7 linked regions of the Homo sapiens genome follow. The protein of the gene in region 1 purifies or fractionates together with the protein of each later gene. This does not show direct contact. Each region holds a gene or a part of one and is shown in the gene's direction. Other genes may lie near its edges. The genes, in order: PRCP, CARNMT1, NPEPPS, FAM81A, C1QTNF9, ISOC1 and PLPBP.

The links.
Region 2: the proteins of PRCP (region 1) and CARNMT1 purify together in Homo sapiens (co-immunoprecipitation; one large-scale study listed by IntAct). This does not show direct contact.
Region 3: the proteins of PRCP (region 1) and NPEPPS fractionate together in Homo sapiens (co-fractionation; one large-scale study listed by BioGRID). This does not show direct contact.
Region 4: the proteins of PRCP (region 1) and FAM81A purify together in Homo sapiens (co-immunoprecipitation; one large-scale study listed by IntAct). This does not show direct contact.
Region 5: the proteins of PRCP (region 1) and C1QTNF9 purify together in Homo sapiens (co-immunoprecipitation; one large-scale study listed by IntAct). This does not show direct contact.
Region 6: the proteins of PRCP (region 1) and ISOC1 fractionate together in Homo sapiens (co-fractionation; one large-scale study listed by BioGRID). This does not show direct contact.
Region 7: the proteins of PRCP (region 1) and PLPBP fractionate together in Homo sapiens (co-fractionation; one large-scale study listed by BioGRID). This does not show direct contact.

The regions. Positions count from the first base shown.
Region 1 is NC_000011.10:82,822,436-82,824,933, reverse strand, and holds the end of PRCP (lysosomal Pro-X carboxypeptidase isoform 1 preproprotein), read left to right. Parts: coding exon 1-28; 3' UTR 29-1,998; downstream 1,999-2,498. UniProt on the Homo sapiens protein: Cleaves C-terminal amino acids linked to proline in peptides such as angiotensin II, III and des-Arg9-bradykinin. This cleavage occurs at acidic pH, but enzymatic activity is retained with some substrates at neutral pH.
Region 2 is NC_000009.12:75,014,794-75,018,293, reverse strand, and holds part of CARNMT1 (carnosine N-methyltransferase), read left to right. Parts: intron 1-845; coding exon 846-1,041; intron 1,042-1,862; coding exon 1,863-2,026; intron 2,027-3,500.
Region 3 is NC_000017.11:47,590,108-47,593,607, forward strand, and holds part of NPEPPS (puromycin-sensitive aminopeptidase), read left to right. Parts: intron 1-609; coding exon 610-774; intron 775-1,796; exon of another isoform or gene 1,797-1,848; coding exon 1,849-1,953; intron 1,954-2,377; coding exon 2,378-2,438; intron 2,439-3,500. UniProt on the Homo sapiens protein: Aminopeptidase with broad substrate specificity for several peptides. Involved in proteolytic events essential for cell growth and viability. May act as regulator of neuropeptide activity.
Region 4 is NC_000015.10:59,455,186-59,458,685, forward strand, and holds part of FAM81A (protein FAM81A), read left to right. Parts: intron 1-3,364; 5' UTR 3,365-3,385; coding exon of another isoform or gene 3,386-3,432; 5' UTR 3,433-3,441; coding exon 3,442-3,461; intron 3,462-3,500.
Region 5 is NC_000013.11:24,316,080-24,319,579, forward strand, and holds part of C1QTNF9 (complement C1q and tumor necrosis factor-related protein 9A precursor), read left to right. Parts: coding exon 1-90; intron 91-2,738; coding exon 2,739-2,801; intron 2,802-3,500. UniProt on the Homo sapiens protein: Probable adipokine. Activates AMPK, AKT, and p44/42 MAPK signaling pathways.
Region 6 is NC_000005.10:129,108,249-129,111,748, forward strand, and holds part of ISOC1 (isochorismatase domain-containing protein 1), read left to right. Parts: intron 1-3,500.
Region 7 is NC_000008.11:37,769,145-37,772,644, forward strand, and holds part of PLPBP (pyridoxal phosphate homeostasis protein), read left to right. Parts: intron 1-3,500. UniProt on the Homo sapiens protein: Pyridoxal 5'-phosphate (PLP)-binding protein, which may be involved in intracellular homeostatic regulation of pyridoxal 5'-phosphate (PLP), the active form of vitamin B6.

The DNA.
Region 1 (2,498 bases):
CTATGACAGTGCGGGAAAGCAGCACTGAGAAACTTTTGATTGTTTTCAATTTCTTCTTTTATGTTCACACCACCACATTCCCATTCACTTTGATTTTCTACATGTAATTACCTTCTTTTGTTTATCATTAGATTTGATGGGGCCAAAGTTGAGATAGAATAGAGGGTGATGACGGTAAGAGCAAGTGTCCCATGAATGTGATTTCCTGGGTTCTCACTGTCTTTGCACCACGTCTAGGAAGAATCTTCTTGATAGCTCTCCCACACCATCAGTGGCCCTCATAACTGGAGTAGAGTTCCTGGTTGCTTTTCATAAGAGGGAGAGTTACTTTCTTTGTATCTCTGCAAGCAGAGATTTCTCTTTGGTTTTGAGGTTGAAGTGTCTTTGGCCCATTTGTAAGTCCCCATCCCTACCCTACACAAAGTAAAAGCAGAAGATAGATAAAAAATGATGTAATTGCAGCTGGTAGGATGTCTGGTGCCAATCCAGGAAGTGAGAGCCATTTCTTTTGTACCGGATTTAATGACTTTGAACTGTGCTGTAAATAAATAATACAGCTGGACCTTATACCTGTGTGTTGCTTCTGAAGCTCACTTCAACTCCGGCTGATGGAAATGCTGTGTGCACTGGGCTTAGCTGTTTTTGGAAAGTCCTTTAATTTTTTCTCTTCCACTTGGCAGCTTTTCTTAGTTCTGGGATGTTGGCCACTGTGGTACTGCCAGTAAGAAATCTGGCCTTTTTCTGCTCCATTTCTCTTTGTTTCTAAGGTCAGTTTTAATTTGTTTGAATTCTGCCAGTTTAGGAAAATGACTCTGTTTTGTCTTTTTAAATCTGAGCAAGCTTTATGCTGTAGTCACTAATTATATTTCAGTAAGAAGCCTTTAAAAATTGATGAATCAGCTATTCCAAAAGTAGAATATAGTAATATTCAGCTTTTAAATTTTTAAAATTTTATTTTCTGATAGTTGTTACTGCTGTCATTAAAACCAGAAGTGTTAGACACTAACAGGCAGGTGCACAAGAACTTTTCTGTATGACTTCCAAAAGACAAGCTGACTAATTCATGCAGGCAGCATATTTGACATTAATAAATGGCCAAGCCATTCCTATTTCCAAGGGGTTGGCTTCTTTCAAGCAGTTCTTACACTGAGACCTTTCTTCAGAGAGCTTTTCTAGGATAACAAATAGGGTTGGATCAAAACCTTTCAGGGACACAGAGAGACAGAGAGAGAGAGACTAACAGTTTCTACTCTGTTGAAAGATTTCTTCCTCCTTGTTTCTTTTCATTTTCTCTCAATAATTTTTTTTTCTTCACCCTGCCTTGGGAACATTTTCTGCTTTTAAAAAACTGTACCTTGAGCTTGATCATTTTTATGGCATTTTTTTTTTTTAAGGGCATATATAGAGTTCATTCTTGGGATGGAAAGCTGAAATATTTCCTTTACTTTCCCTGGCATCTGGGAGATACAGGAAAATCTTTGTCTTATTTTGGGAGCCTTCAGTTCTCATTGTAATGAGTTGTCTATCAAAGCATTTGGTAACTATTTTGTTTCAGCATCACAGAACAATCGATTTGGGTGGGAATTTAAGGGCCAAAACAATACTAGTTTTTATTCTTTGTCAACTAAGAAATTAAATAATGCAGGGTTTATGGGCTCAATAGAGGATATTCTTACAATTTATTTTACGATTTTAGGGTTTTTCCCTTGTGTAGAATCTTTAAAATACTTTGCCATTTTATTTGATGTTGATTATTTGGATGAGTTACATTATTCTGAAGAAACAAACTGCAAAAAATAGAATTTTTTGGCAAGCATAATTGTATCCTATTACTGTATGCATTTTAGGAATATAGATAGCAGCCTTAATTGAAGTGAGTATAATTATAATATGCTAAGGTTTAATTTTAACATGAAAAAGAATTGGAGTGTCAGATAAGCCTTATTATTTAAAGCATCCCTCTAATAAAACTGCACTTTTTACTGACAGGGAAAGAGAGACATGGAGACTTGAGTGCTTTCTATTTTTATTTTTTTCAGCTCCCAAGAGCTTAGAAAGAATTGGGTGCTTTTTATTTTCTGTTTTTGTTACTTTAACTGCCTGGAGTCAATGGGTAGAACTAAAGTAACTTAGGAGAACCTTCATAAGGAATCTGTAGCGCCAAGAGGTTATCCAGAGGAGCCAGTGTCTAAGCCAGCATAGTAGAGGGTGAAGGCCCCTGAGATATCCAGTTCAACTGCATCATTTTGTAAGGGATAGAATTGTAGCTTAGAGAGAAGGAACTTATCTACGGCCTCACAGCTCCTTTTTGGCAAAACTGGGGCAGAACTGGGGCTCCTTTTTGGCAAATTTTGTTTGCTTCATTTTACTGGTACAGTTTTATTTTTGTTTGGATTCAAGCAACAAAAGCCCACAAAACCAGCTTAAGGAAAAGAAATGTTTTGAAACTGCCAGATCAGCTCCAGGACTTGGGTTACCAGGAATCATGGGGAACTAGA
Region 2 (3,500 bases), on another chromosome or scaffold:
CCCGGAGTTTGAGACCAGCCTGGGCAACATGATGAAACCCATCTCTACAAAAAAATACAAAAATATTAGCCAAGTGTGGTGGCACATGACTGTAGTCCCAGTTACTTGGGAGGCTGAGGTGGGAGGATGGCTTGAACCTGGGAGACAGAGGTTGCAGTGAGCCGAGACTGTGCCACTGCATTCCAGCCTGGGCGACAAGAGCGAAAATCCCTCTCAAAAATAATAATAATAAGTAAATATAAGTAAAAATTATGTTCTATTTTCTGGTTTTATGAATAAGTAGTCCCCAAAGTGACCTTTGGGTTCGTTTTTGGAATGCAAATTGTGGGTATTGTTAAGTAAAACACTATAGAATTTTAATTTTTTATTTGCTTAGTAATTTGTAGTATATAAGATCTTCTATGATATTTAAAAAAAATCAACCTGGTTAGCTTTTAGTTAATTTCAGGACATATTTTGTGTGTATTATAATTTCATAGCAGTATTTATTTTGCTACTTAAAGATGGAAAAATCTAAAGCTGGTTTTGCTGAAAATTTTAAGTTTAAAACACAAAAATAAATTAATTGTACATTAATCTTCTTTTTCCTCTTCTAATTGGTGCATATGTTTACTTTTACTAGTGATAAACCATTTGTATTTTGGTTGCTTAGAGAAGGACTTGTAATAAAGTAAAAACATTTACAACTTTATAAGTTAATGCCTTTTTAAAGCCAAGAGATTGTAAATGATAGGACAGTATCCAGCATAATAAGGAAATAATTGTACAGAAAGACAACCTTAAAGTAAGATTGGCCTCTGGTGAGAATTCTTTTGTGAATTTAAAAAACACCTTTTATGTTTTAGCACCAGTATGCATGAGCGGGTGAACCGAACAGAAAGACAGTTTCGATCACTTCCAGCTAACCAACAGAAACTACTTCCTCAGTTTCTTCTTCACTTGGACAAGATCCGGAAATGCATTGATCATAATCAAGAAATACTACTGACCATTGTGAATGATTGCATACATATGTTTGAAAATAAAGAATATGGAGAAGATGTATGTGAAAGTTTGTTCTATTTCTGTTTATTTTAGGGTCAACCTCTGTATTTTGAGGTCTTTTATTTTCTGGATTTCATTTTTATAATCTGGCACAGGCTATTTGCTCTACTCAGAAAGTTTTAACTTAAATGTTCAGTCATTTGATTAGGCTTAATAGCCAGAGACTGGATCTGTTCACTTGTTTTCCTTTTTTAAGTACTAATATAACTGTTGAGATTTTGATGCATTTTGACATAATGTTCTGTTTTGGAATACAGGGTTAGTGACTTAAATTTTTAAAAGCAACTTTACTAGCTAGAAATTAATTTCCCTTGCTTAACTCATATTTTTTCAGTGTCTTGTATCTATTGCTGTTCATCTTTTATTGTAAGAAATTGTTTTCACTTATAAATCTCAAGGGACTGGCAGTACATAGAAACTGAAGTCCTCTTTTTGTATCCACAGGATGGATACAGTTGGGCCACTCCAGTGTGAGCCTCTCCATGCTGCCCCATCAATGACCTGGAGGGACTTTCTTCCCTCTCTTAGAGAGGATGTTCGGTCTCCATAGCAGCTCAGTTTGGTCCTCTCCTGAGTAAAGACTGCTTAATTATATGGTGGTTTTATGATTAATGGACCTTAATCTTTTGAGGGTAGCAGTGAGACCACCAAACTCTTTTCATTTAGGATCTCAAGCTGCACTTGAACCCCAGTTGAGGTGAGAGGCTAGTGATTTATCCACTAAACCACCTATATAGCCCCTTAGTAGCATGTCTATTTAACCATAATATAAGTGGATTACTCTCTCAGAAGCTAATTGATGTCTGTTTTTTAAACAGGGGAATGGAAAGATTATGCCAGCATCTACATTTGACATGGATAAGTTAAAATCCACGCTGAAACAGTTTGTGAGAGACTGGAGTGAAACTGGGAAAGCAGAAAGGGATGCCTGTTACCAGCCAATCATTAAAGAAATTTTAAAAAATTTTCCAAAAGAGAGATGGTAAATAGTACCTCATTTTTAACCAAGTTTTTAAAGTGTATGAACACTTGAGTTTCTTGATAAAATGTTTCACAGTCTCGCTTCATTGTTATAGTTGCTGTGTGCCTGTATGTTTTACATGTGTAAGTGTTAACATTTGTTATTGGATGCTCTGTGTGAGATTACAGTTGTTATTTTGAATAATTTTTATGCTGGTGCTTAGGGGAAATTACTTAGAAATTAAATAATAAGGTTAGGTCGAAAATTATCAATGATGTGTATCTTTTTATAATTTGCTTTATGGCAAAGCAAAAAAACTAAACTTTTAATTCCCCTCATTATGACATAGTTGTAAACAAGTGAGGGATCTGTACCTCTGAGCAAGCAGAGATTCTTAACTTTTTTATGCCTTGGAACCATTGTTCAGTCTGAAGCCCATGGTCTGCTTTTCAGAATAATTTTTTTTTTATTTTATTTATTTATTTATTTATTTATTTATTTTTTTGAGACAGTCTCACTCTCTTGACCAGGCTGGAGTGCAGTGGTGTGGTCTTGGTTCACTGCGACCTCTGCCTCCTGGGTTCAAGTGATTCTCATGCCTCAGACTCCGAAGTAGCTGGGACTGCAGGCTTACACCACCACGCCTGGCTAATTTTTGTGTTTTTGGTAGAGACATGGGCTCACCATGTTGGCCAGGCTGGTCTCGAACTCCTGACCTCAAGTGATCCGCCTGTGTCTTCCTCCCAAAGTGCTGGGATTACAGGTGTGAGCTACCTCACCTGGCCCAGAATAACAATTTTAAGTGAATAAATTTAAGTGCATATGATTACAAAGAAAACTGATTTTGAAATACAGTTATCAAAATATTTAAAAAGTAAATTTGTGATGCATGTTTTTTTAAATCATATATCACTTTAAATACAATTTAGCTGCAAGTATAATTATGAAATGTATTATGAAAATGCTGAATGGGATATACACTGTTTTGAGAACTTCAGCTAATGTGAAGTGAAAATATGTGTGATTTCTCTTCGTGATAAAGTCATAGGTATTGCTAAAACTATTGTTTGTTGCCTGCATCCGTAATTGAGGGGAAAAAATCAGTTTCTGAAATTAAAATGTAATTTTTTCCCATTCCCTTCAGAGACTCAGTGAATTCTATCCACAGACCTCTTGATGGATAGAATTTAATCCACCTAACCTCTGTCCCAGGTTAGGAACCCCTGATTTAGGGGTATATATTTAACGAAAGCTATTGGATGGAATTCAGTCTTATTTAAAGATCTTTTAGAGAGGCTCCTTTTCCTCCTCTCCTTTGCCTCCGTATTGATTGACAACTTTACGTTTGAGTATTTGCTTTCAGAAATTTCAATACATATGTGTCTCTTCTCTCTCTTTATTTTTTGTTAGGACATTTTATTTTATTGATTATTATTTATTTATTTATTATTTTTATTTTTCACTCTGTTGCCCAGGCTGGGGTGCAGTGGCGCTG
Region 3 (3,500 bases), on another chromosome or scaffold:
ATTGCTTGAGCCCAGGAGTTCAAGGCTGCAGTAAGCTACGATGGTGCCCCTGCCACTCCAGCCTGGGCAACAGAATGAGACCCTGTCTGGGTTTGCGGGAGAAGTTATTTACAATGTTTTGAAAATATCCTTTAGCCCAGGCATGGTGGCTCACACCTGTAATCTTAGCACTTTGGGAGGCCGAGGCAGGTGGATCACTTGAGTTCAGAAGTTCCAGACCAGCCTGGCCAACATGGCAAAACCCCCTCTCTACTAAAAATACAAAAATTAGGCAGGCATAGTGATACATGTCTGTAATCCCAGCTACTGGTGAACACTCCAGCCTGGTGACAAAACAAGACTTTGTCTCAAAAAAAAAAAAAAGAAAAGAAAGGAAAAGAAAATGACCCTCAGATATAATTCTCATATCACCAGTTGGCCTTTCTTGACATCTCTTTTAGTCTTCTCTCTTTTTCAGAAATGTGAGTTCTTTGCCAAATGTTTTGAACTGAATTTTAGGTCATTAAATTGTGAGTTTGGGAATATAGTGGAAGGGACATGTGAGTGTTTTAGATTAGTAGAATGACAATCATTTCATTTTCTTTAAGTATTTTCATCTTTTGTTTTTAGGAATGGTGGACTCATCTTTGGTTAAATGAAGGTTTTGCATCCTGGATTGAATATCTGTGTGTAGACCACTGCTTCCCAGAGTATGATATTTGGACTCAGTTTGTTTCTGCTGATTACACCCGTGCCCAGGAGCTTGACGCCTTAGATAACAGCCATCCTATTGAAGTGAGCCATACTTTCTAACCATTAGCCTATGACTGCTCTCATTTACAATGAAATACGTAATTTGTTACATAGATACTTTGGACTTTGAAAATAAGAGAAAATAGCATGGGTGATTTTACTGGTTCATATTTCTAGTCTTGAAAAGCTAGTAAGTCTAAGTTCTAATTAACATTTCTTTTTAAGGTAGGCAGTAAAAAAAAATTGGTCTGGCCAGGCGCAGTGGCTTATGCCTGTAATCCTAGCATTTTGGGAGGCTGAGGCAGGTGGATCACCTGAGGTCGGGAGTTTGAGACCAGCCTGACCAATATGGAGAAACCCCGTCTTTACTAAAAATACAAAATTAGCTGGGCACGGTGGCGCATGCCTGTAATCCCAGCTACTCGGGAGGCTGAGGCAGGAGAATCACTTGAACCTGGGAGGCAGAGGTTGCGGTGAGCCGAGATCGTGCCATTGCACTCCAGCCTGGGCAACAAGAGCAAAAAACTCTGCCAAAAAAAAAGAAAAAGAATAGTATGGGAGAAGTCATACCTATTGGGTAACACTATGGTTCCATTGTTTATGTCAAGGAAAATTCTGGACATATTTTATTGTCAGGGTCTGTTTTGTGAATACTTTAATTCTCTTGACTTAGCCTATCCCTACTTCAGTTTATATATATAAATTTTGTATCTAAAGAACTAGAGTTATAATGCTACTTCAACATATTTAATTAGGCTCCCATATAATTGTAATTCATTACAATTAGTGCAAGAAATCTAATGTTCTTCACCTCCATATCTTCCTCATCACTCCTCTGCAACTACCCCAAAAATAAACAGAACCATAGTGGCTTCTTTCCCAGCAGAACAAAGCCAGGACTGGAACCCAGGCTCTAAGGGATGACAGGAATCATGTTCTATTCAACTTTATTATTATTAGTTACTACATTTTTTTGAGGACCATCGTTATACATTATGAGTGAGTTAAAGGCAGAAAAATGTAAGTTAGAAGGGTTTTCCTAGAAAGCGTTTTATGTAATTCAGTATTACAGGCTATCTGCTTCCTGTCATAACCCTGAATCACACTGTCTGCCAGGTCAGTGTGGGCCATCCATCTGAGGTTGATGAGATATTTGATGCTATATCATATAGCAAAGGTGCATCTGTCATCCGAATGCTGCATGACTACATTGGGGATAAGGTAAAAAAAAACTTTAAATATTTCATTCTTTTATGGTGAAATCATAAGAGTTTTGCATGAAAAAAAGTCTCACTTTATTTGGATTAAGTTCCCAAATAGTTTCTGGCTTGTCATTTTTTTTTAATGACCAAAAAGAATGAGAATTCAATTATTTGAAGTTGACTACTCTGGTCTCTTAGATGAGTGATGTGCAGGTGTGTTTGGGAGTGGAAATGGGAGGCTGTTACAAAACTTAAGAGCAAGAATAGAAGGCATAGAGTACGCATTATTAAATAAAAGGCAGTAGGCATCAGAAGGATATATGTGTTTCAGTGTATCTGATACTTGAGTATTTGAGTAAATTTGTTTTTGATTACTGATATACAAATATACTATAAATTCTGAGATCTGACTTCCCTGGATTTTAAAAATTGTGTTTTCTCAGGACTTTAAGAAAGGAATGAACATGTATTTAACCAAGTTCCAACAAAAGAATGCTGCCACAGGTAATCTCTAATAGCTTGAGATAGAAATGGAGAGAAAGTATTGTCACTCTATCCAGGCTGGGACATTTTATTTTTGTTCTGAATACTTAAGGTCAGGATCCATGTAATAAATAAATTAGCCTTATTTGAAGCTGTGTTCAGGTTGAATATCTCTAATCTCAAAATCTGAAATTTGAAATGCTCCAGAATCTGAAACTTTTTCTTTCCTTTCTTTCTTTTTTTTAATTAAAGTTCTAGGGTGCATGTGCACAATGTGCAGGTTTGTTACGTCAGTATACATGTGCGGGCCATGTTGGTTTGCTGCACCCATTAACTCGTCATTTACATTAGGTATTTCTCCTAATGCTATCCCTCCCCCAGCCCCCTACCCCATGACAGGCCCTGGTGTGTGATGTTCCCCGCCCTGTGTTCAAGTGTTCTCATTGTTCAATTCCCACCCAAAATCTGAAACTTTTTGAGTGCCAACATGATGCTCAAAGGAAATGCTCATTGGAACATTTTAGATTTTGGATATTCCAATTATAGATGCTCAGCTAGTAAGTATAATGCAAATATTCCAAAATCCAAAAGAAATATGAAATTCAAAACATTTCTGGTCCCAAGCATTTTGGATAAGGGATACTCAACCTGCAGTAAGTCATAGGGTCAACATGAATCAGGACTCGTTATCCCTTTGGTCATCCTCCAGCATTCTGCTTTCCATAACTGAGTATTTTGCCAACTTAAAGAGTCTGGGCCGGGTGTGGTGGCTCACGCCTGTAATCCTAGCACTTTGGGAGGCCAGGATGTGCGGACTGATTGAGCCCAGTTCAAGACCAGCTTGCAACATAGCGAGACCCCACCTCTACAAAAAATACAAAAATATTAGCCGGGTGTGGTGGTATGTGCCTGTAGTCCCAGCTACTCAGGAGGCTGAAGTGGGAAGGGTCACTTGAGCCCAGGAGTTTGAGGTTACAGTGAGCAATCATGGCACCACTGCACTCCAGCCTGGGCAACAGAACAAGATCCTGTCTGAAAAAAATAAAAAATAAAGGGAATACAGTCATGTGTTGCTTAACAACA
Region 4 (3,500 bases), on another chromosome or scaffold:
TGCCTGGCCCCAGAGTTTATTTTTTCTTACTTCTTTCCATTCTTTTCTTCTTGCTTTACCTACCTGTCCCTTCCCCCAACTTCCCCCAATTTTAAAACTTTATAAAGTGGAGATTGTTTAATATATTGTTTAATATAGTGGAATCACTGCACAATCAAAACAGCATGAAACCCAGACCTGTGTGATAAGGTTGTAGACAGACCTGTGGTATCAGTGATCAGATTTATAAACGTACAGGAGATGATAACCTCAGGCAGGTAAGCCAGAATTAACAACGGGAAGATCTGGAAACAATGCTTGAGATGTTATTTAATCCTGTGACTTATTCATTATCAATCTTTATTCATCTGCAATATAGATTCCACGTTCTGGCAAAGAATCGTGATGCTAACAAACCAAGCGACCTGCCAGATATGCAGATCCTCACCACATTCATAAAGGGCACCCATTCTGAATAATGTGTCTTGTGAGCTCATGCCTTATGAAATTTCTTGTCATAGAGCTGCATAGCGCTTAGGAGGGTTTGCTTCTGAAAAGCCATCTCCGATAATCAGTGGTGTGGCTTGACTTTTGTGGCTCTGTTCAGGTAGATGAAATGGCCTTCAGAGAAGGGGATGCCAAAGTCCCCATTCTTTCAGATACTTATTGAGTGTCTAATATTTGGGATTCAGTCTTGGTAAATAATTATACTTTTTAACTAAAGTATATTGTCTTATATCTTTATTGCTGCAGTTTCTGATCTGGAAGTGCTGGGCATTCACTCATTCATTAACAAACATATATGGATACTTCTAGGTCAGCCCTGTGTTTATTAAGATTTGAAACATGCCTGTAAGGAGCGTGTCATTTAGTAGGGGAGCTAGACTATTAAACAACTAAAAAGAATAGAGCACAATAAATAGTATACAAACAGATAAAGAGCTGGAGAAATGCAAGAGAGAGAGCCACTTTATAGACTGGAGGGGCTAGTGGGGCTTTAAAGAGTGCATGAATTTTCTAGGCTGGCAGGGGTGGGAAGGGCATTTCCCATAGAGCGCACGCACAGAGGTGTGATGGCAGGAGTGTGCAGGACATATCCAAGGACGGTGGTGGATGGGGTGGCGGGGGCGGGGGTTCCCGGTGACTGGAGCAGGTGATTGTGGTAGGGAGTGGCCAAATATGAGGGCGGAAGAACAGGTTAGGCAGGCCAGAGCATGTTCAGAAGAAAGGAAGTAGAGGTTGGAGTGTTGAAGAGAAGCTGTGGAACAATCTCTCCATCCCCTATTTTGGGAAAGCCTACTCATTCTCATCAGTTCTTCCTGACCTAGCTGCTACCCAGGAAAAATCGACCCCTCTCCTGTTTTCCCTCCCCATGTGCTTTTTTTCACAGGGTTAGCCACTTAACCCATTGTTTTTGTTTGTTTGTATTTGAGACAGAGTCTCCTCTATTGCCCAGGCTGGAGTGCAGTGGCGCTATCATGGCTCACTGTAGCCTCAGCCTCCCTGGGCTCAGGTGATCCTCCTGAGTAGCCTCCAGAGTAGCTTGGACTACAGGTGTGCATCAATACGCCTGGCTAATTTTTGTATTTTTTGTAGAGATGGGATTTCGCCATGTTGCCCAGCTGGCCTCGAAATTCTGGGCTTGAACTCCTGGGCTCAAGCAATCCTCCAACTTTGGCCTCCCAAAGTGCTGGGATTACAGGCATGAGCCACAACCCATTGTTTTCTGGTTGGTTTAGATGACTTCTGCTGAGGGAAGGGATTTTAGTTTTTCCTAGTTAGGTTACTTAATTACCTAATAGATGCCAAATACATGTTTCTTAAGTTAGGCTATTCTGTAGATTAATATCTCAACTGAGATGTCTTACAACTTTAAAACTGTAAAGATTCTATGATTCTAAATAACAGCATTTCCCACACTGGCCTGATTTTATTTACGGTAGTCCCCCCTTATCGATGGTTTCACTTTCCACATTATCCAAGGTCAACCATGGTCAAAAATATTAAATAAAAAATTCTAGAAATAAACAATTCATAAGTTTTAAATTGTGTGTTGTTCTGAAATAGTGTGATGAAATCTTGTGCGATCCTGCTCCCTCCTGCCCAGAACGGGAATCATCCTCTTGTCCAGCATATCCACACCATGTATACCTGGCCCTGTGAGTCACTTAATAGCCATCTCTGTTATCAGATTGACTGTTGGGGTATTGCAGTGCTTGTGACCAAGTAACCCTTATTTTACTTCATAATAGCCCCAAAGTGCAAGAGCACTGTGCCTAATTTATGAATTAAACTTAATCATGAGTATGTATGTGTAGAAAAGAATAGTATATATAGGCTTCGGTTTCAGGCATCCACTGGGGGTCTTGGAATGTACCCCTGACAGATGAGGGAGGGCTACTGTAGTCTATATGGCAGAAATGCTTCTCTTTGACACTGAAGAACTCTTTGGGCACCATAGCTTGTTTGGCATGAATGACTTTTTTTTCCTTAAATGTAATTTGTTTAAAGTTCTTTGTCTAAGAAAATGAAATGTGCACATTTTGAAACTCCAAAAATAAAACACTAGAGAGATGACGCCAAAACAGTGATTTCAATCAGAAATGCTTTCTGAATCCAGCATCTAAATGAGAATTAATTATGGAATCAGATCATAGTTAGTAGGCATTCATTATTTTAAGGCAATTGATAGCAGTATTGAGGAACCTAAATAATAAAGTATTTTAAACATCCTCTAGTGTTTTTCACATTTCTAATGAGTTGTGGGGACCAAATGTTCCTTATATGCAAGATGAAATATGAATGATTGTATCTTATTATAAAGTTTTCAAGTTCTAATGAGGAATATCTTTCTCACTCCCTTGGTGGATAGATATCTTCCCACAAATCAGATCACATTGATCATGTGCTGTTTTATTTGAGATTAATTTAGAAATAAGTGCTCTTCATTTACCATGGAATTAGTAGTAAAAGTTTTCTGAGATCAAATTTACTGAGGTAGTTTCCTGCAAAATTCTACAGAGAAGTATAAGATTGGATAAGCCTATTAAACACTCTAGTTTCTGTTAAAAGTGGTTTCTCAAGCTTGAGATGCAGATTTGGAGTGAGGAAACTTCAGGAAACTCCATTGTACAGTCCCTGTTGGTCTGTCTTGCAAGGCTTAGCAATATTAATTTCAGAAGAGCTTTGATTTTGCTTGATTGCTTTTCTTCTTATTTGGAAACATATGCTGTTTATTTCATGTATAAGATACAAAACATTTAATAATATAACTTATCAGTGTTTCAACATAATTTATGATCCACTTAGCAACTTAATAATAAGCTTTTGAGGTTAAGTTCTAGATATAAACTGTTAAATAATTTAGTGCTTATTTTTTCAACAGATGTGAATTATTAAAAAGAAAATGGCCCAACGGAGCACTGTATTTCCTTCTCGTGTCACCAAGGAAAGGTATAATATATGGAAAATATGCATCTAAGGTATACTTTTCCTTTCCACTCATCCCATGGGGGCTGCTA
Region 5 (3,500 bases), on another chromosome or scaffold:
GGCACCCTGGAATCCCTGGGAACCCCGGTCACAATGGTCTGCCTGGAAGAGATGGACGAGACGGAGCGAAGGGTGACAAAGGCGATGCAGGTACTCACCTGACGGCTTCGGCTGCCTTTCAACTTCTCTCTTCATTCCTTTCATCTCATTCACTCATCATCTGTGTGATTTTCCACCTACCCACTCACACCCCATCCATCCATACATACATCAACCCAGCAACACTCACTGGAGCCTGACCCCATTCATCCATCCACCCATCTGCCCAGCAACACTCACGGGGTCTGCTCCATGCCAGACTCTGTGCCAGGTGCTGGTGGAGAGCACAGGGCAAGATCGCCATGACCCCTGCCCTCCTGGGTTCTCTCATCTCTGACACCGCAGAACATTTTCAGTAGTATACGATGTCATGGATCCTCCCATCTCAGGTGACAGGTATGATGGATTTTTGGCAACAAAAGGCTAATAGAGAGATCTGATCACGAATTATTTGGCAGCAAGCACCCAGCTGCAGTGCAGGTGAGAGCTAATACCGCATCATGCCATGAAGCAGGAGATGCGGAGTGACAGATGACACAAAAGGAGACGAGAATCTGAAACCATACAGCTGCTGCTTATGCATCTATATGACCTAGGTTGGGACCCTGTCCCAGGGTCTGGGGATCTGGGGGACAGGATTCAGCCTCTGGGAGGGAGATTTGCCAAAGCTGAGAAGTCCGAGTGGTTTCCATAACAACAACCAATAGACTTGGTTTCCGAATGGGGTACCATTCTTGAGGCCTGGTCTTGACCATAGGGTCACATATCTAAGGCATATGCAGAATGATCCATCTGGGTTAAGGGCACAGTTCAGTGGCATTACAAAAAAATATATCAAAACTTCTATGGACCTTTTTAAAGATAAGTTTGTGTTTCTAACACATCTCAGCTTATGGCATTTGGTGGCCTGATGATGTTTTGAGTGGGCTGGATGAAGCCAAGGGTCACCAGGAAGCAACATTCTTTCTAACCACCATCCTGCACATCTGCTCTGTGAGGTGTCTTCTCCTGGCTCACATCTCCAGCTCATTGACACTGTTCCAGTCCCCAGGTAGCAAACAGCCCAGTCCAAATGAATAGCAAAACCTTACCATTAATGAAATCAGGTCTTCTGCCCTCACACTGGGACCACAGTAGTGTGTGTGTGTGTGTGTGTGTGTGTGTGTATTGTATTTCTGAATATATAAGATTTTCATTTTTTGTTATAAAATTTTACACACAAAAGGAGATAAATAGGTGATAGATAAAAAATAGAGGACAAAGACAAACACTCCTATATTCAATACCAAATTTCTCTACCTCTTCCCTGTTGAATTTCTCTCCTCTTTTCTCACCAGTGTCCATTCTTTCAAGTTTTATATACTTCTTAGAAGCAAATTATGTATCTATTTTTCTACGTAGTTCATAGGTATTATATATAATATATATTACTTCTTAGAAGGATATTCATTCACATTGCTCACACTAAAAATTTACTTCATTTTTATCTTATCTTAAAGTGTATTTTTGTATATGTTTTATACCAAACATATTTTCCATATACTACCTGTGCATAATGTAGAAACATATAAATATCTACTGATTGGGGTCTGTGTTCATGCTTTGTGAGTTGTGGTTGCGTGATCATGAAAGCTCAGAGGCCACCGCTCTAGAGAATGGGAGAAACGAGAGCCAAGCAGGGAAACAAAAAGAGGGAAGGAGAGGAAGACACAGGGGAGCAGCCAGTGGAGGGGAGGGGAGGGGAGGGGAGCGCAGGGAGGGGCAAATGTAGGGATAAGCCCCCTCCATTCAGAGGTCCCACGCTGACCAAGGCCCCACTCAGGAGCGCTGGTGTCCCAGGAGAACAGACATCGTGACAGAAATAAGTCTGCCTGTGTCAGTCCTGTCTCAGGACCTGCAAGCCGGCCCAGCCTGCCCCTGTCGCCCCACAGCCACGTCAGTGGGTCTGAAGTATGGGAGTCTCTGCTGCTTTGTGAGAAGCCAGAGTCTGGGGTGAGCTGTGGCCCAATGAGCACTCTACTGCCATAGCCAGAGCCACCTTCAACCTGCTGACGGATAGCACGCCGACCTGGAGCTCAGGGGGGCCTGTTCTGAGCACAAGGACTTGAGTGTAGTCAGCAGAGCCCCACTCACCTGATGTTCTCTGCCAGCTTGATTGGTGGCATTTCCCCCAGTGTAAGGCACTAGAGGGATCCTTCCAGAACTCTCTCTTCTATCTTGGGATAGTGTCACGTAACCATAGTCATCTGTGTTTTCATAGGAGCCTAGTAAATCTTCCGTTCCACTCTCCTCAAGAGTAATGGAAGAGAAACAGAGTGAGGAAACCTCCTGGCACCTCCAACATTCAGACCACGTCCCAAGTCCTTGTCGCAGGAGAGGAACACAATCGTGACAGTCAGTCCCCATTGCACACACTCCCTCTTCGTCCTGTCTTGCTGTGCGCTCTAGGCACGTCCTAGAGATGGGCGCTTGGGAAGTCACTCAGTTCATTTCTTAGGTCACTTATCCCACGCAGCTCAGCACCCCAGATGCCCGCTCATGCCTGCCTCTCTCCACCTGCGCTTGTGTGGAGGACAGAGTGCCCGTCAGGGCGGGGGTCACCCCCAGACTCTCCAACACACATGGCTGATGGAGACCAATGGCCAGAAAAATCAGAAATGGAATTTCAACTCATGCCTGTTTTCTGCTTTTCCACCTAGGAGAACCAGGACGTCCTGGCAGCCCGGGGAAGGATGGGACGAGTGGAGAGAAGGGAGAACGAGGTTAGTAGTTCCTATTTATGGTGCTCTAATTCTGAGCTGTCGACTATTTAACAATATTACCATGGACAAGTCCTCCATGCTGATTATAATCTTACAATAAAGGCAACACAGTTCTTACTCTCCAGACGGGGGGATTCTGCAGGGATTGGCAGGCTTTGCAGAGGGCTGGGTAGTAAATATTCTCAACTCCGCAGGCCATACAGATCTGTCACCACTACTCAACTTCCCCTTGTAGTGAAAAGAAGCTGTAGATGCTCCATAAATAAGCATGGCTCTGTTCCAGTGACACCATATGTGTGAAGACTGAAATGGGAATTTCCCATGGTTTCCATGTATTGTGGAATATTATTTGTGACCATTTAAACATGCAAACCATGGCCGAGCACCATGGCCCACACCTGTAATCCCAACACTTTGGGAGGCCCAGGTAAGAGAATCGCTTGAACCTAGGAGTTCCAGACCACCCTGGGCAACATAGTAAGACTTTGTCTATACAAATAAAAAAAAAATTAGCTGGGCATTGTGGCACGTGCCTGTAGTCCCAGCTACCCAGGAGGCTGAGGTGGGAGGATCGCTTGAGCCTGGGAGGTTGGGGCTGCCATGAGCCATGATCTCGTCACTGCACTCCAGCCTGGGTAACAGAGTGGGTGACCCTGTCTCAAAGCAACAAAAAAACAAGCAGACAAACAAAACCCAGAA
Region 6 (3,500 bases), on another chromosome or scaffold:
ATCAGAGGAAAGAAGGGATGAGTACAGGGCCACAGGGTGGTGGGAAGCAGGCAGGTAGCTGGCCACAGCAGGTGTTTTAGGGTCCTTATTGGCTCTCCCTTCTCTGTTATTGCTGAAGCAGAATCCTATACTGAGATTACAAATAGAAATTATTTATTTTGTTTAGCTATTTTCAAGTCCATTAGGCTATTAGATTATCTGGTAGTTAGGTACTAAGTATTGCTGCTTCTTCCAATCTCAACAAAGACCTTTAATCCATTTCTTTTTTTTTTTTTTGAGAGATGGAGTCTTGCTTTGTCGCCCAGGCTGGAAGTGCAGTGGCACAATCTTGGCTCATCTGCAACCTCCACTTCCTGGGTTCAAGCAGTTCTCCCTGTCTCAGCCTCCCGAGTAGCTGGGATTGTAGGTGCCTGCCACTGCACCCGGCTAATTTTTGTATTTTTAGTAGAGATGGGGTTTTGCCATGTTGGCCAGGCTGGTCTCGAACTCCTGACCTCAGGTGATTTACTTGCCTCGGCCTCCCAAGGTGCTGGGATTACAGGTGTGAACCACTGTGCCCGGTCAGACCTTTAATCTATTCTTATAGTCATGAGTTAATCAATTCCTACTTTTCAGGTTTTCCTGGTAACCTGAGTTTAAATACTTCATTGTCAGGTCCTCACCACCTCAGCCAGCAGCTCTTTCAGCCACTGTGGATAAACCTTTATTGTAATGCTGAGGTCCAGAACTTTGGAAATAAAAAATGAAAAACACAAAACAAACTTCCTTGCTTGTAAAAAAGGACTTTTTTCAAGGACTTTTCTCCTACATTCATATTTTCTTAGATATGTCTTTGTTATGGCAACTTAATGACAAAATTTTGATTGGCAATTCTGTCTTTGCACAAGACTCAAGATTAAAAACAATTCCCATCTGAACCATTCTTTTTAGAGGCAATCTGTAATCTCTCGGATTAGGAATCCACACAATGTGGGGATAATGTGGGTTTGAAGGCAGGTTCTGGTGTTTTGTAAATTTGTGACTTTGAGCAAGTTGTGTAATCTCTATGCCTCAGATTTCTCATTGGTGAAATGGAAATGATAATAGCAACAAGATCATAGGATTTTTGTGAGAATGGAATGAGATAATATATTGATAGCAGTTAGGACAGTGCATGACATAGTAAATACTCAGATGTTAGCTGCTGCTTTTTTTGTTGTTACTGATTGTTGTCTTCACGTGGTTAGTCACCAGAAATGTGTAAGTATATAACCTCTAAGACCCAGAAGGGACTAGTTCTTGGAAGTTCTGAGAAGGGAGGGAAAGAATCTGTTGTCTGGGGTGGATTTGGAAGGGCCTGGAGCACCAACATTGCCTGGGGTTAAAGTGTTGAGGTTGAAAGGGAAAACCGATCATAGATAAGTCAGGTGGTGATTGATAGGGAACACCTGCCATATTGCAGATTTTTTTCCTTTTAGTCTTGATTTGATACGGAGGCGATATACCTTGTTCCTAAATTTGAGGAAGGGGGCAATGTTAAGTGTTCTGGTTTGTTTCCATAAGTGTGAAAGTTAAAATACCATTGTGGTCCTCTCCCCTTCCTCTCTATTCCTGTAGAACATAACTACTGAAGATAATTCCCAAGACTAGCTATATTGCCTGTTAAGATTATTTTAAGATTCATAGTTTGCATTATTGAAACTTCACTGTACCAGGGTCTGTGGCATGTGCTTTATTCAAGAAATGTTTTCTGGGTATTTGTCATCTGAAAGACATTACTCCTTTCAATTAACAATTGTAGAGTGCATGAAGAATAAGAGAATAAAATCCTCTCTTGACCTTGATGTCCTTGTACTTCCGGGGAGTTTTAGTGTTGCTTGGAAATCTAATGGGTTTAGTCTTTTTCCCCCCTCTCTGAGGCTTTCATGACTTAGTGCACATGCATTTTTTAGGTTTGTGGGTCAGAGCAATCCTTCTTTTCCTTTGGCCTAGTTGGATTAGTTTTGCAAGTGTAAGGGGAGAACTTCAGAAGTCTAATGCACATGTACCTGTGTGCATTAAATGGCTGGAGTTTTAACTGCCCCTTTTTAAGCCAGGAGAGAAAGTGGACTTGGGACCAGCATTGTCAGGATGGTGGGCAGGGACTTGCTAGGTATGTCTGGAAAGCTCCTGCTGTTCTTTCTCTGCTCAGGCACGTTCTTTGGTTGGGAAAGGGCAGGCATTGTGGGAATGGCTAAGAGCCAGATTGAAAACCATTGCATTTGCTAAGCTACACCTTTCCCTAACACAGGTTCCTGGCTAGATGATTTTAAAACCCAGTCAGTGTTGGCCACATTTCAATCTTGAAGCAAAGTGATAGTGTATGGGTGTCACTTTCCTAAAATGTATTTCTGTGATGTACACTTCCCACTCTGCCCCTGCTATGGCCACCTGAGTCTCAGCATCACTGAGGCTTGTTAGGCTCAGGTCAGTAGAGCACTAGGGAGTGCTGGGCATTGTAGACAGGCTTCTTGTAGCGTCACCAGATTCCTTCCTTAGACCTGGGAACAGATTTATCTTTCCTGTCTCACTAAGGAACTGGGGAGATTATCGAGAACTAACCTTTATTGGCACATTGGAGTATACAGTGTAAAGCACTCTCACAGACATTGAAAGCCTGTGATTTAGTCCTTGATTCAGACTGAATCATTGCAAGTCCATTGATTCAACAGTGAGCAGTAAGGAAGGCAGGGCTGAGCAGGGCAGGCAGCTGGTGATGGGGAGAGCTGGACATGAATGACTTGACATTCAGTGCTGTTTTCACACAACTGGACTGCAGCTTATCATATTTATTATCTGCCTTTCTGTCTGAAGCAAGCACACGATCTTTTCATATTTTTGAATGGTTTTGATATGATTAATCAGCTGACTATAAAGCAAGGAGGAGGAAATTAGGGCTTCCAGAAGTCTTAAAAAAATACTCAGAGATAACTCACCCCTGGTGTGTGTCTGAGCTTATGGCCTTACTCCAGGCCCCCAACCCCCCCATAAATAGCTGCTGTTTTTGTTTTGTTTTATTTTGTTTTTTTTAAAAAATTGCTGCAAAGTTCTGGTTAGCTGCTCTGCACCCTTTTCTGTACTGGTCATTAAGGTCCAAGCTTGCTTTCTGACAAGTAGGTTATGGCTTATACTCCCTTATACTTCATTACGGATAAAAATAAAGAGTCTGCCAGTGGAAAGGTTCAGTCTGCTGATGTACAGCCATTGAAGGAAGACTGACTTACACTCTGCAAGGATATTTTGGCTATGCAAGGGCTTCCTGGGTTTTTGCCTCTGACTTACCTAGGAATTGTTTCCAACCACTTCCTCTTTCATGCTTTTTACATATATGCTTTTTGTGATAACAGTTTGTGTCTTTTTTTTCCCTGGGATTTCTGATAACACATAAATCCAGAGAATGAATCTGTGCTATAGAATTCTTCTATTTTCCTCCTTTCCTCTCTCTACCCTTTACCCCCGACTTTCTGTTCTTTGCTCTCTTC
Region 7 (3,500 bases), on another chromosome or scaffold:
GGTAACATGGCAAAACCCTGTCTCCACTAAAAATACAAAAAATTAGCTGGGCGTAGTGGTGTGTGTCTGTGGTCCCAGCTACCTGGGAGGCTGAGGTAGGACGATCACCTGAGTCCAAAAGGTTAAGCCTGCAGTGAGCTGTGATTGTGCCACTGCACTCCAGCCTGGATGACAGAGGAGACCCTATCTAATAATAATAATAATATTAATAATAATAAATTTTAAAAGAACAACTAGCAGATTTGATCACACAAAAATTAAAGCTTTCTGCATGTCAAAGCAAAAGGGAGGCACAGAGTGGAAGAAAAATAATATTTTTGAAGAGGGAAGAGATTCATATCCAGAATACATAAAGAGCTACAAATCTTTTTGTTTATAGGGAAAAAAAATAGGCAAAAACTGGGGCAATTTATAAGGGGTAAAAATACAAAAGGCCAGTAATCAAATGAAAAATATTCATCCTCAGAGAAATACAAAATCACTAATCAGATTTGTAAAAAATCAAAAAGACTGCTAAGATCCAGTGTTTTGAGGGAGTGAGTAAATGAGTACTCCTTCGTCTTACCAGGAGATTCTAAAACCGTAGAGTCTTGGAAAAACATAAAGATTCCACCAAAAAACTATTATAACTGAAAAACAACTTCAGTAACATTGCAGGATACAAAATAAATATACAAAAATCAGTAGCATTTCTATATGCCAACAGTGAATGATCTGGAAAAGAAATCAGGAAAGTAATCCCATTTACAATAGCTACAAATGAAATACCTAAGAATAAACTTCACCAAAGAAGTGAAAGATTTCTGCAATGAAAACTGTAAAACACTGATGCAAGAATTTGAAGAGGACATGAAAAAATGGAAAGATATTCCATGCTCATGAATTGGAAAAATCAGTATTGTCAAAATGTCCTTATTGCCCAAAGCAATCTACAGATCCAGTGCAGTCCCTATCAGAATACTAGTGACATTCTTCACAGAAATAGAAAAACACAGTCCTGAAATTTATATGGAACCACAAAAGACCCATAATAGCCAAAGCCATCCTGAGCAAAAAACAAAGCTGGAGGAATCACATTACCTGACTTCAAATTATACTGTAGAGCTATAGTAACCAAAACTAGCATAAAAACAGACACATAGACCAATGGAACAGAATAGAGAACTCAGAAATAAATTTGTACATCTACAGAGAATTTATTTTTAACAGAGGTGCCAAGAACATACATTGGGAAAAGGACAATCTCTTCAATAAGTGCTGCTGGGAAAACTAGATATCCATATGCAGAAGAATAAAACTAGACTCCTATCTCTCACCATGTACAAAAATCAAATCAAAATAGATTAAAGACTTAAATCTAAATCCAAGACCTGAAACTACTAAAAGAAAACATTGGGGAAACTCTCCAAGACATTAGTCTGGACAAATTTTGTTTGTTTGTTTGTTTGTTTTGAGACAGGGTCTCACTCTGCACCCAGACTGGAATGCAGTGGCATGATCTCGGCTCACTGCAACCTCCATCTCCTGGGTTCAAGCGATTCTCCTGCCTCAGCCTCCCAAGTAGCTGGGATTACAGGCACGCCCCACCATGCTGGCTAATTTTTGTATTTTTGGTAAAGACGGGGTTTCACCATGTTGGCCAGGCTGGTCTCCAATTCCTGACCTCAGGTGATCCGCCCACCTCAGCCTCCCAAGGTGCTGGGATCGCAGGTGTGAGCCACTGCACCTAGCCATGTTAGAAATATGTAAAGGTGATGGGAGGAGGGAGCGGGGAAGGAGCCAGCAGGCATAGAAGGGGCAGGAAAACCTAACAGAACTGTTGTTTTAGTGCCATTTTCCCTTCTGGATGATCCGTTATACTCATTCAACCTCACAGCTCAATTCATTTCCATAAAGGCTTCTTGAGGCCAGATGCAGTGACTCACACCAGTAATCCCAACACTTTGGGAGGCCAAGGTGGGAGGATCACTTGAAGCCAAATACATATATGTATATTTCTTTCTTTTTTAGTCTTTCTAGTCTTGCTCTGTCACCCAGGCTGGAGTGCAGTGGCGTGATCCCGGCTCACTGCAACCTCTGCCTCCCAGATTGAAGGAATTCTCCTACCTCAGCCTCCCGAGTAGCTGGGATTACAGGCATGTGCCACCAGGCCTGGCTAATTTTTTTTGTATTTTTAATAGAGACAGGGTTTCACCATGTTGGCCAAATGGATCTCAAACTCCTGGCCTCAAGTGATTCGACCACCTCGGCCTCCCCAAGTGCTGGGATTACAGGCGTGAGCCACAATGCCTAGCCATCTCTGGCTAATTTTTTTATTTTTTGGTAGAGACAGGGTTTCACTGTGTTGGACAGGCTGGTCTTGAACTCCTGGCCTCAAGTGATCTGCCCTCCTCAGCCTCCCAAAGTGTGGGGATTACAGGTGTGAGCCACTGCACCTGACCTTGACAAAGATTGCTTGAGTAAATACTCCAAAAGCACAGGCAACCAAAGCAAAAATGGACAAATGGGATCACATCAAGTTAAAAAGCTCTTGCAGGCTGGGCACAGTGGCTCACGCCTGTAATCCCAGCACTTTGGGAGGCCAAGGCCAGCAGATCACGAGGTAAGGAGTTCAAGAACAGCCTGGCCAACATGGCAAAACCCCATCTCTACCAACAATACAAAAATTAGTGAGGTGTAGTGGTGGGTGCCTGTAATCTCAGCTACTTGGGAGGCTGAGGCAGAAGAATAGCTTGAACCCAGGAGGCAGAGGTTGCAGTGAGCCAAGATTGTGCCACTGCACTCTAGCCTGGGCGACAGAGCGAGACTCTGTCTCCAAAAGAAAACAAGCTCTTGCAGAGCAAAGGAAACAACAAAGTGAAGAGACAACTCAGAATGGGAGAAAATATTTGCAAACTGCCCATCTGAAATACTTGTACATAGCACCAAGTTCTATATCCAAGCTTTGTTTTTGTAATAAAAAATAAGAAACAATCTAATATCCATTAACGAGGAATAGTTATGTAAACTGTGATAATCTGTCCTGTGGATTGCTGCAGTTTTTTAGTAGAGATGGGGTTTCACCATGTTGGCCAGGCTGGTGTCAAACTCCTGACCTCAGGTGATCCACCCACCTGGTATTACACGTGTGAGCCACCACACCTGGCCAGTGTTAGGGTCATGGTGATGTCCTTGTTGGATAAGAATACCCTCATCCCAGAAAGTTGAAGAATTGTGGTGATATGCTAGGGAAGCATCTTGGCTTCCACTGGTCATCCTTTCTTCATTGTCATCCTGACCTGTTTCTCTCAGTTTGAACTGAGACATAGATCAAGCCTTTTACTAGGAATCTGTCCGTTACCAGCTTCTTGAAGCTTATGGATGTATATGCTGCCTGATCATGTATGTCAGCTTTTCCCTTATTTACCTTTGCTGATTAGCCAGGGATGGTCTGACATTTGAATTTGTATCTAGTAAAACTGTCACATTTGTCTTCTCAGAGGAACTGAGATTTAACTGTG